Regions from separate parts of the Homo sapiens genome. Here region 1 is linked to region 2. A link means that fine-mapping ties the variant in region 2 to the expression of a gene that starts in the linked region. Tissue or cell type: whole blood. Region 2 holds a variant in brackets; the other region holds the start of a gene. All regions are shown on one strand. Distances are from middle to middle.

Region 1 (8,489 bases), 96 kb after region 2:
AAAAGTTAAACTATAAAATTCCAAGCTCCAAGATTCTAAAAAGGTACAAATGTCTTATTTGTTTCAACGTTTTCTTTGAACGTGCACATTTCATCCGGTAAAGAAACCTTTGGGATTTTATCTTAAAGCCGTTTAAAGGCATAATCAAAAGGTTTGAGTATCAAACAAAAGCCACCTATCCATAACACATCCTGTTCACGAAAGCGTCCCAGAAACTCGATATAAACAAAATCCCTCTGTTTATTTCCAGGAGTTAATACTGTGGTTTTCTGTATCCAACAGTATGCCTACATACCCGGGGTTATTACGTTTTCTTCCTCTACTCAAACAGAGCATCTGCTGCTAACATTAACACTGAAGTCCAAGTTATTTTCACAAACAAAAAAGCAGCTGGTCAAGCTAATCCATTTGTTGACTAGCCACCATGAAGCTTCTGTAAGACTGCCTAGTTAAGTTAACCTCTACTGTCAGACTGCATGACTCAGAACTTCCAAACCTCTTTCTATTAGAATGTAACAACTCTTCTCTGGAACCACCATGTGAATCGTTTCTTACAGATATAATAGCAGAAAAGATGCTTTAAAAGTAAAAATGTCGGGCCGGGCGCGGTGGCCCACGCCTGTAATCCCAGCACTTTGGGAGGCCGAGGCGGGCGGATCACGGGGTCAGAAGATAGAGACCATCCTGGCTAACATGATGAAACCCCGTCTCTACTAAAAATACAAAAAATTAGCCAGGCGTGGTGGCGGGAGCCTGTAGTCCCAGCTACTCGGGAGGCTGAGGCAGGAGAATGGCGTGAACCTGGGAGGTGGAGCTTGCAGTGAGCCAAGATCGCGCCACTGCACTACTCCAGCCTGGGCCACAGAGCGAGACTTCGTCTCAAAAAAAAGGAAAAATGTCTACACTTAATTTTAAAAGGAGAAAGTTACTTTGAAGTTAGGATTATTAAATTAATAACAGTAGCTAACAGTATTTTTGTATGCTAGGCACTGTTTAGTGGGTTTTAAAAATGAATGCAAGACCGGGCACAGTGGCTCAAGCCTGTAATCGCAGCGCTTTGTGAGGCCAAGGCTGGCGGATCACCTGAGTGAGGTCAGGAGTTTGAGACCAGCTGGCCATCATGGTAAAACCCCGTCTCTACTAAAAATACAAAAATTAGCCAGGGGTGGTGGCAGGCGCCTGTAATCCCAGCTACTCAGGAGGCTGAGGCAGGAGAATCTCTTCAACCCAGGAGGCGGAGGTTGCAGTAAGCCAAGATTGCACCGTTGCACTCCAGCCTGGGCGACAAGAGCAAAACTCCGTCTCAAAAAAAAAAAAAAAAGAACACAATCCTCACAATAATCTTGTGAGAGAATTACAATTATTGTTATCTCTGTTTTACAGATGAAGAAATGGAGACAGAGCAAACTATCCCAGCTCATACAGCTTATAAATAGTAGAACTGGAGACTTGGCTCCAGAGCCATCCTCTTACTAATGTAAAGCCCAAATCCCAATGCCTAACAAACATTCAGGTATATATTCAGGCCTTCCTCACACTTTGCAGTACCTATTTTTCTTATACTCTACTGACTGAGGTACTACCCCTACTACTATTTTCAATGTACATTCCATAACAGAAAATAGTATCTAAAAATCATGTCTGGGGTGTACTACTGTCTTATTTAAAGAGAACAATATCCAGCTTAGATCATTACTATTTGAGGCTTGTGATTCTGCAGGAATTCATACGAGAAAAGGAAGCTCAGGTTCAGAGCACTGAACTGGTTATACACATTAATCCCGGACATTCTTTTTACAGCTATAAACCAAAGGGTGTTTGTTTTTTCATTAGAAAGATTTGGTACCACCAATGAAATTCAACATATTTTCTAATATTGAGAAGTTGATTCTCAAAGATATCACAAATAAGATACATTACTACTACTACTAAGAAAGAGAAGCTAATTCTTTGCTACCTCTCAGGAAACTGCACGTGGTAACCTGTAGGTACCCTAACACATCATTCGAAATGAGAACAAATAGGTTCAAATCTTAGCCTTAGGGCTAGTAGCATGACCTTCCAGGAGTCACAACTCATTAAAGTAAGGAATAATGCATCCCTGATAAAGTATGATGATCAATATTAAAACACATTTTTTTGTATTTTATGGGACACAGTATTTTAGTGGTCATACTTTGTAAACTTTAAAATGCTGTGTTTTCAGAACAAACTATTTTATCAGATTTTTACTATGACACTATAAAATACTCTTACTTCTACTGCATAGATGAGGAAACAGATTAATCACAGTTAAGTGACTTGCTCCTTATCACAGAGCTAGTAAATAGCATCCTGGAACCCATGTCTCCGGACTTTGCTCCTTCACTTGACCTCTGCTAATGTCCATTCAAATATCATTTCTTTTATCTAATAAGCTGAGAGATGTTTTACAAATTTAGGCAGAGACAATATTTTAAACCTATACATACTCAAAATACACAAAATCTAATTTTTAAAAAATGCCTTAAGAATAGTCATGCATTCCAAGGTGAGTTTCAAGACCAACACATACAATGAAATCATATGCATATTTGTTAAATACTGTAATAGTCAATGCTCAACACATCATTATTCTCTCATGCCCTCAGTGAAGTGATCCTCAAGAAGGTGAATGTAGACAAAATTGTAGAAAACGTTGTTCTAAGTCTTTCCCGTGCTTTCTAATAATAGAAAAGAATAGTCTCTTAGATATGTCTTTGTTTTCCCTGCTACATTATTAATACTCCTTGTTTTTTCTTTCCTACCCTGTACTATATTTCAATTACGTTATAGTCTAACAAAGAGAACAGGGTGGTTATTTTCATATGGAGATTATGACTGAATAATTCACTTCTAACTGTATTCAAGACATTGGCTTTGTTCTCCAAATACTTCTGAATTGAACCTTTACGATTATATAACCTTTCCTCAACTGTTCGGAAAGTATAAAACATTCCACAACGACCCCTAAGTAACTGTGCCCAGCAACACCAACTGGTCAGAGAGTGGGAAGGCTGCCCTAACAATTGAAGTCTTTTCCCTCCATTCAACGAACACTAAACACTAAGATCTACTTAGGAAAAGTCATGGGAAGGGGAGCGGTGGGCGGTACAAAGGAGATTCGGTCCCTGACCTAAAGAGCGTGGTGCTGAGACGAGACTTGGTCGAGGAGAAAGCCCCAGCTTTCGGCGTCAGCAGGGAGACACCAAAAAGGCTGTGCCTCGGTTTCCTCACCTGCTGAGGAGGGATACACCCCCACCAGCACGCTCGCAGTCTGCAGGCATGAAAACCGGCCTAAAGCGCTGCAGAGTGGCTGATTTTAAAAGGGGGATGGCTCCGTTTCTCCTCCAGAGTCAGGGCCCCGGACAGCGCGCAGAGCAGAGGCCAGCCCGAGTCACCGGGCGCGGTCCCCGCATCCGTGTGGGCGCCTCTTAGCTCCCGCCCAGAGAGCGGCCGGGCGGCCTTGCCCTCCGCAGCAGCAGCCCGGACGCCCGGCCAGGCCCACCCCGCGCACCCACAGCCCACGGGCCCAGGCGCCCCGCCCACCCTGTGCCGGCCCGGCTTGTCTCGGTAGCCCCGGGCTCCCCTCCCCCGCTTACTTTCTGGGAGTCCATGGCGAGTGGCTAAGCCCACTGGGCTCGAACCCGAGACGACGAACCGTGTGAGGAGGCTCAGCGAGATCGCACACCCCAAGACCGCTACTCACTGCACTGCCCCAGCCCGCACCGGCACCGCCCGGCCCCACCCGTCCGCGCCCAGACCGCGCGCGCCGTAGTCACGCCGCGGTTGCCAGGGTGAAAGGGCGGCCCGCAGAAGGGAGGGGCTGAGGAGCGCACCGCGCCTGCGCGCAGCGGCTGACTGCTCCCGGGAAGTAGCCGTGGAGGGTGGGGAGCGCCGCCCGTCTGTCTACCGCTAGTGCCTCTGCAGGCTGCACTCCCTTCCCCCATCCTTTTTCCTCCAGCGATAGCGGTCTCTCCGGCCCTGAAATAGGCCACTGGGCATCCAGCAGCCGGCCGGTGCGGAGGGCCCGGGAAGGAAAGAGTATCTGGTGCTGGAGACGGATTAGCCCACCCTCCACCCAGCACGCATCTGAAGCCCCTCCCCACACTATCCTTCGAGGGGCAGCCAGGCTTGAGCGGACCCAGCGGTCCAAAGGGAGGAAAAGGGCTGGGGTGGGGATGTAGCGAAAACGTGGGAAAAGACCTTTAGGGGATGTGGTGGAAACGTGGGAGGAGGGATATAGGGATGAGAGTGGCGGAAACGTGGGTGTGGGATTAATATGAGCTTTGGGGCCTGGCACAGTTTTTCCCGGGGACCCACCCATCCTCCCCGGCACCTCGCTACCTGTATGATTTTGAGCAAGTCAGTCTGCCTGAGCTTGTTTCATCTGTAAAATGAGAGAAATAATGCGGACTTTGCAGAGGATTGTGAGGATTAAATAACGTATGGTACATAATTAGTAGTGAATAAATTATAGTCATTCTCTTTTTTTTTTTTTTTTTTTTTTTTTGGAGATGGAGTCTCGGTCTGTCACCGAGGCTGGAGTGCAGTGGTGCCATCTTGGCTCACTGCAACCTCTGCCTCCCGGGTTCCAGGAATTCTCGTGCCTCAGCCTCATGAGTAGCTGGGATTACAGGCGCCCCCACCACACCTGGCTAATTTTTTGTACTTTTAGCGGAGACTGGTTCTAGCCATGTTGCTTAGGATGGTCTCGAACTCCTAAGCTCAGGCAGTCCGCCCACCTCAGCCTCCCAAATTGCTAGGATTACAGGTGTGGGTTACAGGGCATGTGCCAGGCCCATTATAGTCATTCTTAGTGGGGAGTTAGAACCTGCTCGGTGTGGCCTGAGGCATCAATGAAGATTTTAGAAAGCTTGGAATTTAGTAGGCTTGAGAAAGTTCTTCCTCAAGCAGACAGGCCTCATCTTCCATTTGGATGACTCTGGAGAGGCTCACAAAAGTTCAATTAGACAGTCATTTATGATGAATGAATAAAAGGGAAATACATATTGAGTACCTATTCTGTACCAGTTCTACAAACAAAATTCAGTAGTGGGCAAGGCCCTGTTTCTCTCACAGAGCTTACAATCTAGTATAGAAGACCAACCAAAAAAAAAAAAAAAGTTAACGTGCTAGACGGTTATAGGTGCTAAAATTAAAACTTAGGCCAGGCATGGTGGCTCACACCTGTAATCCCAACACTTTGGGAGGCCCAATGAGTGGATCACTTGAGTCCAGGAGTTCGAGACCAGCCTGGGCAACATGGCAAAACCCCATCTCTACAGAAATTAAAAAAAAAAAAATTAGCCAGACGTGGTGCTGCAAGCCTGTAGCCAGAGCCAATCAGGAGGCTGAAGCGGGAGGATCACTTGAGTCCTGGAGGCAGAGGTTGCAGTGAGCCTAGATCACACCACTGCACTCCAGCCTGGGCAACAGGGTGAGACCCCAGCTCCTAAATAAATAAATAAGGCAAATGGATTCAGAGAATTGGGAGGGTTTAATTTTTCATAGAAATGTCAGGGAAGATCTCTCTTGGAAATGACCTGAGTATAAAGTGAGAAGAGGAATTGTACAAGGATCTAGGGAAGAACATTCTAGAAAGTAGGAACAACAAATACAAAGGCCTTGTGGAGAGAAGGAGCTCTGTGTTTGAGAAACAGCATTTATTCTACAATGTTGTCATTACATCTCCACATGGATCCCCCTGACTGTACTGTGATTTTTTTTTTGAGGGCTGAATTTCTTTTACCCCATATCTGTATCCCCAGCTCAGAGTCTGCCACATAGTATGCACTTAATACATCCTTTTTTAACTGGACAGAGATGTACAAGAAATGAAATGAAAGTTACAAAAGGGAAAAGAAGAGCTTGGCTAAGGCTGGGTGGGTAGTGCTTAGAGAGCCAGGGTCCAGGGTGGGCCTATGTGTGCCAGCTGAAAGGAGTAGTGGCATGCAGTCCTTCAAAGAGATGCCCATCTCTTAGTACCAAGGGAAGAGAGCCTCTTATTCAACCTTTCCCAACTCCGTGAGGAATAACAAGTGCAGCCAGGCGCCAAGCCATTAGCCCACTGCTGCAGCCACAAAGGTCGTTCCTTCACACTGTGTACTGCAGTTGAGTCAGTTTCCCATGAGGGAGAAATAGCCTGGCGATTGGAGAACATCTAAAGTCTACTCACCAGACTGCGTGCTTCCTGGCTCTGCCCCTGCTTGCCACTATGGGACCCACGACTAAGCAGAGGAGACAGGGCTTGGCGATGTCCCCACTTCTCTTGCTGCAAGGACTTAACCTCATTACTGTCTGAGGGCAATTCCTAGGCACTTTATGACTGACAGGCACCACCAGAGAAAGAAGAAAGAGGCTTTTGGGGACAGTGAGTTGCAGCTGAAATGTGATCACCAGACTCTGTCACAGTCCACACCCCAGGAGCTCACTCCTGGCTCCTTGCCTCCAGCTTCCCAAGTTCTTTCCCTGTAGCCCAGCCAGCAGACTGCAGCTTTTGACAACATCTCTACCCCATTTGGCTTCTGCCCTCACCTGATCTCTGTCTCTGGCCAGTCTGGCTCTCCTGCCCAGCTCATCCTGGGCCTTTTGCTTCCCCTCGTTCCCATCTGGGAAACAGCTAGTTCCTTCTGACTGTGACTTCTGTCTTCCCCAGTTTGTACAAGTTCTCCCATCACAGCCACGTACCGAGCTGGGCTCTAAGTCTCCCACCCAATCCCTCCCAGTACCTCTGGCCTATAGGCAAGTCCTTTGCCTTTTCTGTACTTATTTTTTCACAGCCAAATCCATTTAGAAATTTTCAAAAGTAGTTTTACAAATAAAATAAAGCATTTTTCTTAAATGTGATCCCTGGACCAGCTGAATCCACATCACCTCATAACTTCTATGAAGTACAAATTGTCCAGCCTTATCCCTGGATCTACTGAATCAGGAACTCTTGGAGTAGAATCCAAAAATCTGTGTTTTAGCATTTCCTCTAGGTGATTCTGATGAACTCTAAGCTTGAGAGCCATTGAACTGCGAGAAAGCAAATTGTTTACAAAAAAAGGGGTCGGGGAGAGGACTACAGAGGCATAAAAATATCAGTTCAAAACCTAGGTTTCTGGTTCTTAAAAAGCCTATCTAGTCATAGACATTTATCCTCTTGAGGTCTCTGGGCCTCCAGGAACCTCTTTCTGAGGAAACCTCAAGTTAGGATAGCCTCATAGAAAGGCTGATGTAGAGAGTCTGGCAAAACTGTCTCTCCCAGAACCAGGTTCTGTATCCTCTCTGAGTGGTGCCAGGTATTGCCTGCAGCCCTGGGCTACCTCGTATATTCTGAAATTCCCCCATCTCTTAGGAGAGAAATTTCCTTCCTTTCAGTGTTGCCAGCAGTCTATCCCTTTGGGAGTCAGTATAGGGCCATCAGCATGGAGTCAGCAGTGTGAATTTAAATCCAGATGCTGCTGCTTACCAGCAACGTAGCCTTCAGTGAGTCACTTACCTTGCTAAACCTCAATTTCCTCGTCTGTAACATACCGATCAGAATAGTAGTAATTCCCTTTTAGGGTTGCTGTGAGGATTAAAGGGGATTATGTAGGTCAAATGCTGGCTAGTATTATTTAACAAGTAGTAGCTGTTACTAATAATTACTCTCTTACTCATAATGTCCTTCTGTTTTACCCTTGCACAGCTCTTTTTCCTTCTGGATCTTTGGGGCCTTAAAAGACCTATTCTCACCACAACTCCCCCTTTCCCTGTTATACCTGTTTTTTCTGGAGTATAATCACTAGTCAAATGCTGCCCTTTGTTGAAGCCCAAAATCTTTGCCCGTTGCTCCCTGCTACTATATCTGGCCTGAGTCTTAGCATTTGCCACCCAGCCTGGGAAGACTCCAAGGCTCTCTAAGCCTCAGTTTCTTTAGCTGTGAAATAGAGATCATAAAAGTAGCACCTATAAGGGTTGTTGAGTGGTAAATCATATAATTCATATTAAATTTTGAGCACAGTGTCTGGCATGTAGTGAGCATTCAAAAAATATTAGCTATCTCTTCCCAACCATAGAAACCTAATTCTGATTTTTTTTTAACAGAGACATGGTCTTGCTGTGTTGGTCAGGATGGTCTTGAACTCCTGGCCTCAAGCAGTCCTCCCACCTTGGCCTCCCAAAGTGCTGGGAATATAGGCATGAGCCACCATGCCCGGTCTTGTTTTTCCTGCCCTTTTCTGAGTAAAATCCAAAGTCACCCAAAATCCCTGCAACCCCTTGGAAGTCAAAGCAAAAATTTCTGATCCTGGGCACTCATTATAGACAGAGTCTGCCCAGGAGGGTGATATGGTTTGGCTGCATCCCCACCCAAATCTCATCTTGAACTGCAGCTCCCACAATTCCCATGTGTTGTGGGAGGAATCTGGTGGGAGGTAATTGAATCATGGGGGCAGTTCTTTTCTGTGTTGTTCTCATGATAGTGAATAAGCCTCACGAGAGCT
Region 2 (8,489 bases):
AAGAAAAATACAAATTCAGACCTCTTAAAAATGCCCAAAGAATTATTAAATACTGTAATTTTAATTTAGTTTAGCTCAAAGGATGTGAGTTACAAATTATAATTGACTTTTTAAGAACAGTTATGTTCCACATAACCATGGGTTTTACCCCAAGTTTGGGAAAGATATCTATGTCAATTTTTGTAATAATTAACATTTCTTTGAAAAGAAAGTGAATGTAGCAAAAGGACTGAGAGAAAACAAACCTCTGAATGAATGGCTGCTTGAAAAAGTCATGTGCCAATTAAGTCAAAGATACGCAGATTTTTTTCAAAACAATTGCTTAAAGCATTCCATATGTTATGAAAAAGAATATATACATTATTTGAGTATTTAGGTACCTCCCTTTATAACCTATCCTTCTTAGATAAAAATTGAGTGATATACATTTTTCAATCCTCTATGTAACTTTAATAAACTTTGATTCCTATAAGAGATGCTAAAAATCAGCATAATTATTATCAGTGTCACATTCAAGTGGGAATTTTACCAAACACAACTATTAAAGGTAGGATTAAACTAGACAACAAAATCAAAAAATATAAGGCTTTCAAAAATCTTACCCATCACCTAAAGTGATGGAATGAAAAGAACTGTAGTTAAACAAGGCAACATATAAAGAATACCCCCCTTGCCATTGTTAGTGCAGTAGGTAAAGAACTGAAATTTGGGTGATTTTAAGCTGTTGTGTCTAGAAATTTCTTATCACAATATTTTGGAAAAAAGAAAATTATATACAATCTAGTCAATAAACAAAAGAGGAAAATTTTGTAAAACTTATTTATAAAAGAGGAAAAATAAACCATTTGAAAACCTTTTTACCATTCCCAACATATGATTTCAATTTTTAGAAAACCTTGGATGACTATGTATTTTTAAAGCTTCTGTGTTAGAACTAAATAATAGATAGTAATGAGATTTTAAAAAGACAAAGTACAGAAGAAAGAAGGCAAGATTTAAAAGCTTTTCTCCCCAGGCCTTAGGGTTACCATATGTAATTAAACATTAGAATAGTCAAAGTAATCCAAGAAATACAAAAATGAGTTTTTATGTTAATTAAACACTGCCTTTTCCCCCATTTACTCTTCAATCATCAGTTTTTTGCTTGGTATCTGCTTGCTTCTATGATACTGCACAGTAGGTTCCTGCAAATGCTTCGTACTAGGTGTTTAATGATAAAAGATTCCAGGCCTCAAAGCAGAACACAGCAAACCTGATTTTCACTACTACCAAATTCCTGTGATTAGTAACTGCACAGAAAAGGCCACCTAATCAAGACGGAGGGTAAACGTATTCTGAGTAGACACTATTGAGTAACAACATTGTTCAGGCTGCTAGCTGAACCAGTCATTCCATTTTCACTTTTCTGAAGTGTTCTCACAGCACTTGGAACCTGCATCCCAGTACTCAAAGAAAGTCCACCACACCATACCTAAGAAAAGACAAAAAAACCTGTCAGATTGCAAATCAAACTAGAATTTCAGTGATTTTTAAATTTCCATTTCAAAGGCAAAATGCCACACATATGAACATCAATCATTCTCAAACACATTAACTGTCATATTTCAGCTGAGGGGAAATGGAAAGACTAAATCAGAATTATTTTAGAACCACAGAGGCCAGAGGAGGTCTTGGTGGTAGCAGAACCAACTGAAGCTGCACCCAAGAGAAGGAACTCAGGGGTGCAGAAATTGAGAAACTTCATTGGCTTAATCTAGGCAAAAGGTATTACCTATCATTACTGATGCTAATTTTCACAACCAAGGGAAGCATACAAAGCACCAACTTACTTCCCACTTATGCTTTTGGTTTTGATAATGAGATATGGCCTGAGACTATAAAAATCTAACACCCCTCAGTTAACAGTAAAATCCACTGTTTTCTTCCTTACCGTGTTAACTATAAGAACTCTTATATAATTATTTAAGAAGGACTCCTGACAAAAATGCAAATCCCAATATCCAGATGTACTTCCCATGTTCTATTACTTATCATAAATGTGAATGACTTTGTGAAAGATAAAACTGCTTTGCTTAGGCTGGTTCAACATACGCAAACCAATAAACGTAATCCAGCATATAAACAGAACCAAAGACAAAAACCACATGATTATCTCAATAGATGCAGAAAAGGCCTTTACCAAAATTCGACAGCCCTTCATGCTAAAAACTCTCAATAAATTAGGTATTGACGGTACATATCTCAAAATAATAAGAGCTATTTATGACAAACCCACAGCCAATATCATACTGAATGGGCAAAAACTGGAAGCATTCACTTTGAAAACTGGCACAAGACAGGGATGCCCTCTCTCACCACTCCTATTCAACATAGTGTTGGAAGTTCTGGCCAGAGCAATCAGGCAGGAGAAAGAAATAAAGGGTATTCAGTTAGGAAAAGAGGAAGTCAAATTGTCCCTGTTTGCAGATGACATGATTGTATATCTAGAAAACCCCATTGTCTCAGCCCAAAATCTCCTTAAGCTGATAAGCAACTTCAGCAAAGTCTCAGGATACAAAATCAATGTGCAAAAATCACAAGCATTCCTATACACCAATAACAAACAGAGAGCCAAATCATGAGTGAACTCCCATTCACAATTGCTTCAAAGAGAATAAAATACCTAGGAATCCAACTTACACGGGATGTGAAAGACCTCTTCAAGGAGAACTACAAACCACTGCTCAATGAAATAAAAGAGGACACAAACAAATGGAAGAACATTCCATGCTCATGGATAGGAAGAATCAATATCGTGAAAATGGTCATACTGCCCAAGGTAATTTATAGATTTAATGCCATCCCCATCAAGCTACCACTGACTTTCTTCACAGAATGGGAAAAAACTACTTTAAAGTTAATATGGAACCAAAAAAGAGCCCACATTGCCAAGACAATCCTAAGGAAAAAGAACAAAGCTGGAGGCATCACGCTACCTGACTTCAAACTATACTACAAGGCTACAGGAACCAAAACAGCATGGTACTGGTACCAAAACAGAGATATAGACCAATGGAACAGAACAGAGCCCTCAGAAATAATACCACACATCAACAACCATCTGATCTTTGACAAACCTGACAAAAACAAGAAATGGGGAAAGGATTCCCTATTTAACAAATGGTGCTGGGAAAACTGGCTAGCCATATGTAGAAAGCTGAAACTGGATCCCTTCCTTACACCTTATACAAAAATTAATTCAAGATGGATTAAAGACTTAAATGTTAGACCTAAAACCATAAAAACCCTAGAAGAAAACCAAGGCAATACCATTCAGGACATAGGCATGGGCAAGGACTTCATGTCTGAAACACCAAAAGCAATGGCAACAAAAGACAAAATTGACAAATGGGAGCTAATTAAACTGAAGAGCTTCTGCATAGCAAAAGAAACTACCATCAGAGTGAACAGGCAACCTACAGAATGGGAGAAAAATTTTGCAATCTACTCATCTGACAAAGGGCTAATATCCAGAATCTACAAAGAACTCAAACAAATTTACAAGAAAAAAACAACCCCATCAAAAAGTGGGCAAAGGATATGGACAGACACTTCTCAAAAGACATTTATGCAGCCAACAGACACATGAAAAAATGCTCATCATCACTGGCCATCAGAGAAATGTAAATCAAAACTACAATGAGATACCATCTCACACCAGTTAGAATGGCGATCATTAAAAAGTCAGGAAACAACAGGTGCTGGAGAGGATGTGGAGAAACAGGAACACTTTTACACTGTTGGTGGGA[G/C]AGTAAACTGGTTCAACCATTGTGGAAGACAGTGTGGCGATTCCTCAGGGATCTAGAACTAGAAATACCATTTGACCCAGCCATCCCATTACTGGGTGTATACCCAAAGGATTATAAGTCATGCTGCTATAAAGACACATGCACATGTATGTTTATTGCGGCACTATTCACAATAGCAAAGACTTGGAACCAACCCAAATGTCCATCAATGATAGACTGGATTAAGAAAATGTGGCACATATACACCAGGGAATACTATGCAGCCATAAAAAAGGATGAGTTCATGTCCTTTGTAGGGACATGGATGAAGCTGGAAACCATCATTCTCAGCAAACTATCGCAGGGACAAAAACCAAACACCACATGTTCTCACTCATAGGTGGGAACTGAACAATGAAAACACATGGACACAGGAAGGGGAACATCACACACCGGGGCCTGTTGTGGGGTTGGGGGAGGGGAGAGGGATAGCATTAGGAGATATACCTAAGGTAAATGACGAGTTAATGGGTGCAGCACACCAACATGGCACATGTATACATATATAACAAACCTGCACGTTGTGCACATGTACCCTAGAACTTAAAGTATAATAAAAATAAAAACAAAAAATAAAATAAAATTAAAACTGCTTGTGAACAGAGCAGCTATAATTCAATAAAGTGAGACATAAGATTTGGGACACAGTCAAAAGAATTAAAATATGAAAATACAGATCATTGACACTATCATCAACTACCGTATATATTAATAGTAGACACAAGCTTAAAGCAAGGGAAATTCTAGAAGTTGTTTAAGTATCATCACCTTCAATTATACCCTTAAGTGTTCAATATCTACTAAGTAACTAGATTATTATACCAAAGAATCTACTGAACTGTGAAATTTGTAATTATATAATTAACATTATAAATTTTCAAAACTAACAGGCTCAGTAATGATAACTCCCAAAATACAAAAGCAACTTTCTGATTATAAAACTACTATATTATTTTTTGGAAATTATTTAAATGATTTAGAAAAATATTTACTCAAAATATCTAACATGAAGATGCAAAGGGAAATCAAGAAGAAAACATAAAACCTTTGTGACCTTGAGTTAAGCAAAGCATTACCCATAATAGGGAAAAAAATTACCAAATTGGACTTCATAACAAAATGAAAAACTTCTCTCTGAAATGTTCAGAAAATGAAAATGCAAACCATAACCAGGAGAAAATATTTGCAAAGCATATATCTGACAAAGGATTCACATCCAAACTTATAAAGAACTCTTAAAAACAGGAAAACCAGGCAGTGGCTCATGCCTGTAATCCCAGGATTTTGGGGGGCCAAGGCTGGTGGATCATTTGAGCCCAGGACTTTGAGACCAGCCTGGGCAATATAGCAAAACTCCATCTGTACAAGAAACATTTTTTAAATAGCCGGGTATGGTGGTGGGCACCTGTAATCCCAGCTACTCGGGAGGCTAAGGTGGGAGGATCACTTGAGCCCAGGCAGTTGTGACTGCAGTGAGCTGTGATCGCACCACTGTACTCTAGCCTGGGTGACAGAGCGAGACCCTGTCTTAAAAATAAAGTAAAATAAAAAAATAAGAAAACAATTAAGTCCTAAAAAGTAAGCAAATAATTTTAACAGATACTTGAAATAAATTATATGAATGGCAAATAAGGACATGAAACATCATTTGTCATTAGGAAACTACAAATAAAAACACAATGACATACCACTACACACCTATTAAAATGGCTTAACAACAACAAAAAATCTGGTAATATCAAATAATGGCAAGGATATGACCAACTCTCATATCACTGATAGGAAGGCAAAAAATGGTACAGCCACTTTGGAAAACATTTTGGTAGTTCCCCATGAAGTTAAACATACACTTTCAATGTGATACAGCTACTCTATTACTGCTCTTAGGTATTTACCCAAGGGAAAATCCCATATGTAAATGCTTATAGTGATTTTATTCATAACTGCCCCAAACTGGGAAAAACCCAAGTGTCTTTCAACTGGTGAATGAATGAATAAACTGTGATACATACATATATGAAACACTACTCAGCAATGAAAAAAAGGAGAATACTGACACCACAACAACATGGATGAATTTCAAATGCAGCATGGTACGGAATCGAAAGGCTACATACCATACAATTCTATTTATACGATGTTCTGGAAAAGGTACAACTATAGGGCCTACGAACTGGTTACTGATAGCTAGGGCTGGTTGTGTGGAACGGTCCACTATAAAAGAACACAAAGGAATTTTCTAGGGTGATGGAAATGTTCTATATCTTGATTATGGTGGTGGTTATACAACTGCAGGCATTTGCTAAAAACCACAGAACTGCACCATACTATAAATTCAATAAAACTGACTTAAAAATTAATCTTGTACACAAAACATTTAATAGGCATTAACGTACTTAATAAAAGCAAGCCTTCAATGAAGGAAAAAAAATTTTAACAAGCTTAAAATAATTTCTTGCAGTATCTTATGACATATACTAATATAATTAGAGTATTATTTGGAATGAAAAACAATAAACTCAGTACATACATACATGAGATAGATTCAAATTAAAAGTAAATCTACTATTTATAAAAGCACACCTAAGTCTTGGAAAAAATTTTTCTGCATTCCACATGGTAAACAACTCATCCTTGATGGACCAGTTTGGAAAAATAGCCAAAAATGCGTAATATGGCAGAGGTTTGTACAAAGTTAAAAAAAAAAAAAAAAGGAAAAAGAAACAACCCTCCCTTCCAGTATCTTTATGTTTCCATGAGCAATAACTTTAGTCACTAATCACTTACTTTTAATGTAAAAATAGGTGTCCTGGTTATTAGCATTGTTTTAAACTTAAGAGATTAAAGTATCTGGAATAAATAATTACTATGGATAATGAGATTTAAAAGCACTGTATTTTCAACCCACTCTTACTCTGAAAACTTTCTCCTTATAGTTGAGAAGTTACAGTTAGGGGTGATGACAGAAGAATATACATGCAAAATATTCCATTTGAAATATACCATCTTGACTTATAGAGGTAGCCTCCAAATTTAAGAAAAGCTCTAGCCAAAGTAATGGTAACTTTAACTGGATCCCACAACTCCCCACGGGAACCTAACCTATGAAAAGATGCAGAAGGTTATGAGTTGGAAAAAGCAATAACATTTGCTTAAATAAATTCAAAACCATGTTTTATTTTGTGCAGAGAAACAAATTTTTCTTTTCAGCCTGAAATTGAGTAGACCTGCAATTACACAGGATGTAATTGCTATGTGGTGTGCATACATATATTCAGCATAGCACACAAAGACAGTCATCTAATATTTTGTACAAAGATGACACTGCACTATGATCTTGTCAATAAATGGTCCTGGAATAACTGGATATCCATGGGGAATTAAAGAACGTATCTAGATCCTTACTTCATACCAAACACATCAATTCTACATTGTACTTGCATTGTAAATGCAGTCTATATCTAAATGTACAAGGTAAAGCTTTTAGAAGAATATTTTCATGACCTTGGGGGTGCATACTGATTTCTTAAACAGAACACAAAAAGTGCTAACTGTAAATGAAAAAATTGATAAACTGAACAAAATTAACTTTTGTTTATCAAACAATACCAATAAGGAAAAAGGAAAGCCAGAGTGAAGAAGAGCCTACAAATTAACCCATAAGAAACACGAAGACAACCTAATAGAAATACAAGCAAAAGATCTGAATAGCCAGTTCACAAAAGCATATACCCAAATAGTCAACAAATATATAAAAAGGTGCTCAACAGCACTAGTAATCAAGGAAATGCAAATTAAAACCAAAATGTAATATATCATCCACTAGAAGGACAAAAAATTTTTTAAAAGATAATACTAAGTGTTGACAAGGATTTGAAGGAACTCAAATTCTTACATACTGCTAGTTGTAAATTAGCATAACCAACCATTTCAGAAAACCGGCAATTTTACAGTTGATTATACATATACGATATGATCTAGCAACCCCAATCATAGGTATATACTCAATGGAAATATACACATACATTTATCAAAAGATATGAACAAAAGTATTCATAGCAGTTCTATTTGTATAGCCCCCAAATGGAAACCACCCACATATCCAACTAAATTAAAATTTATAAATCAATTGATATAGTCACAGAATGGAAAACTATACAGCTATGAGAATGAATGAACTATAACCACATAGAATATGGATTAATCTCACAAGCATAATGTTGAGTCAAAAAGATACTGTATGATTCTGTTTATATAAAACTGAAAAGGAAGTAAATTTAGGGTATTAAAAGTCAATACAGTGCTAACACTGGAGAAGGGCCATTAGGGACTGGAAATGGGCACTAGAGGGGGCTTCTGAGGTTCTCGTAATGTTCTAAGTGCTAGTTACACATGAGTGCAGTCCTATAAAAACTCATCAAACTACATGATTTGTGTACTTCATGTATTAACATAAACTTCAATAAAATATACCAAAAATATATAAAAACAATCACAGATTTGGGAGAGGGTGAATTGGGGAAATGGAGGAGAATATGAAGAAAAAACAAAATATTCTCCTTCTCCAAATATACAGTATAGAATATTCTCCTTAAAGTTGCCAACCAAGTAAAATATGTTAGGTATATATAAGATATAAAACATACTAACCATGAAACCAGG

What was found. PIP is the estimated chance that this variant, and not a neighbour inherited with it, causes the effect.
Region 1: FSD1L starts here. The variant in region 2 is fine-mapped to the expression of FSD1L in whole blood (TOPMed, PIP 0.97).

Annotation. Positions count from the first base shown.
Region 1 is chr9:105,443,367-105,451,855 of GRCh38, reverse strand. FSD1L (fibronectin type III and SPRY domain containing 1 like) reads right to left here and starts at 3,822. Exons shown (of 14, transcript NM_001145313.3): 1 at 3,621-3,822. The coding sequence starts at 3,635. RefSeq lists a silencer at 3,332-3,941.
Region 2 is chr9:105,539,340-105,547,828 of GRCh38, reverse strand. It overlaps FSD1L (fibronectin type III and SPRY domain containing 1 like), which reads right to left. Exons shown (of 14, transcript NM_001145313.3): 13 at 8,478-8,489; 14 at 1-1,471. The coding sequence ends at 1,346. Among named protein-coding and RNA genes, the nearest start is that of FKTN, 15 kb to the left of the region's middle. The variant G/C (reference allele first, on the strand shown) is at 3,789.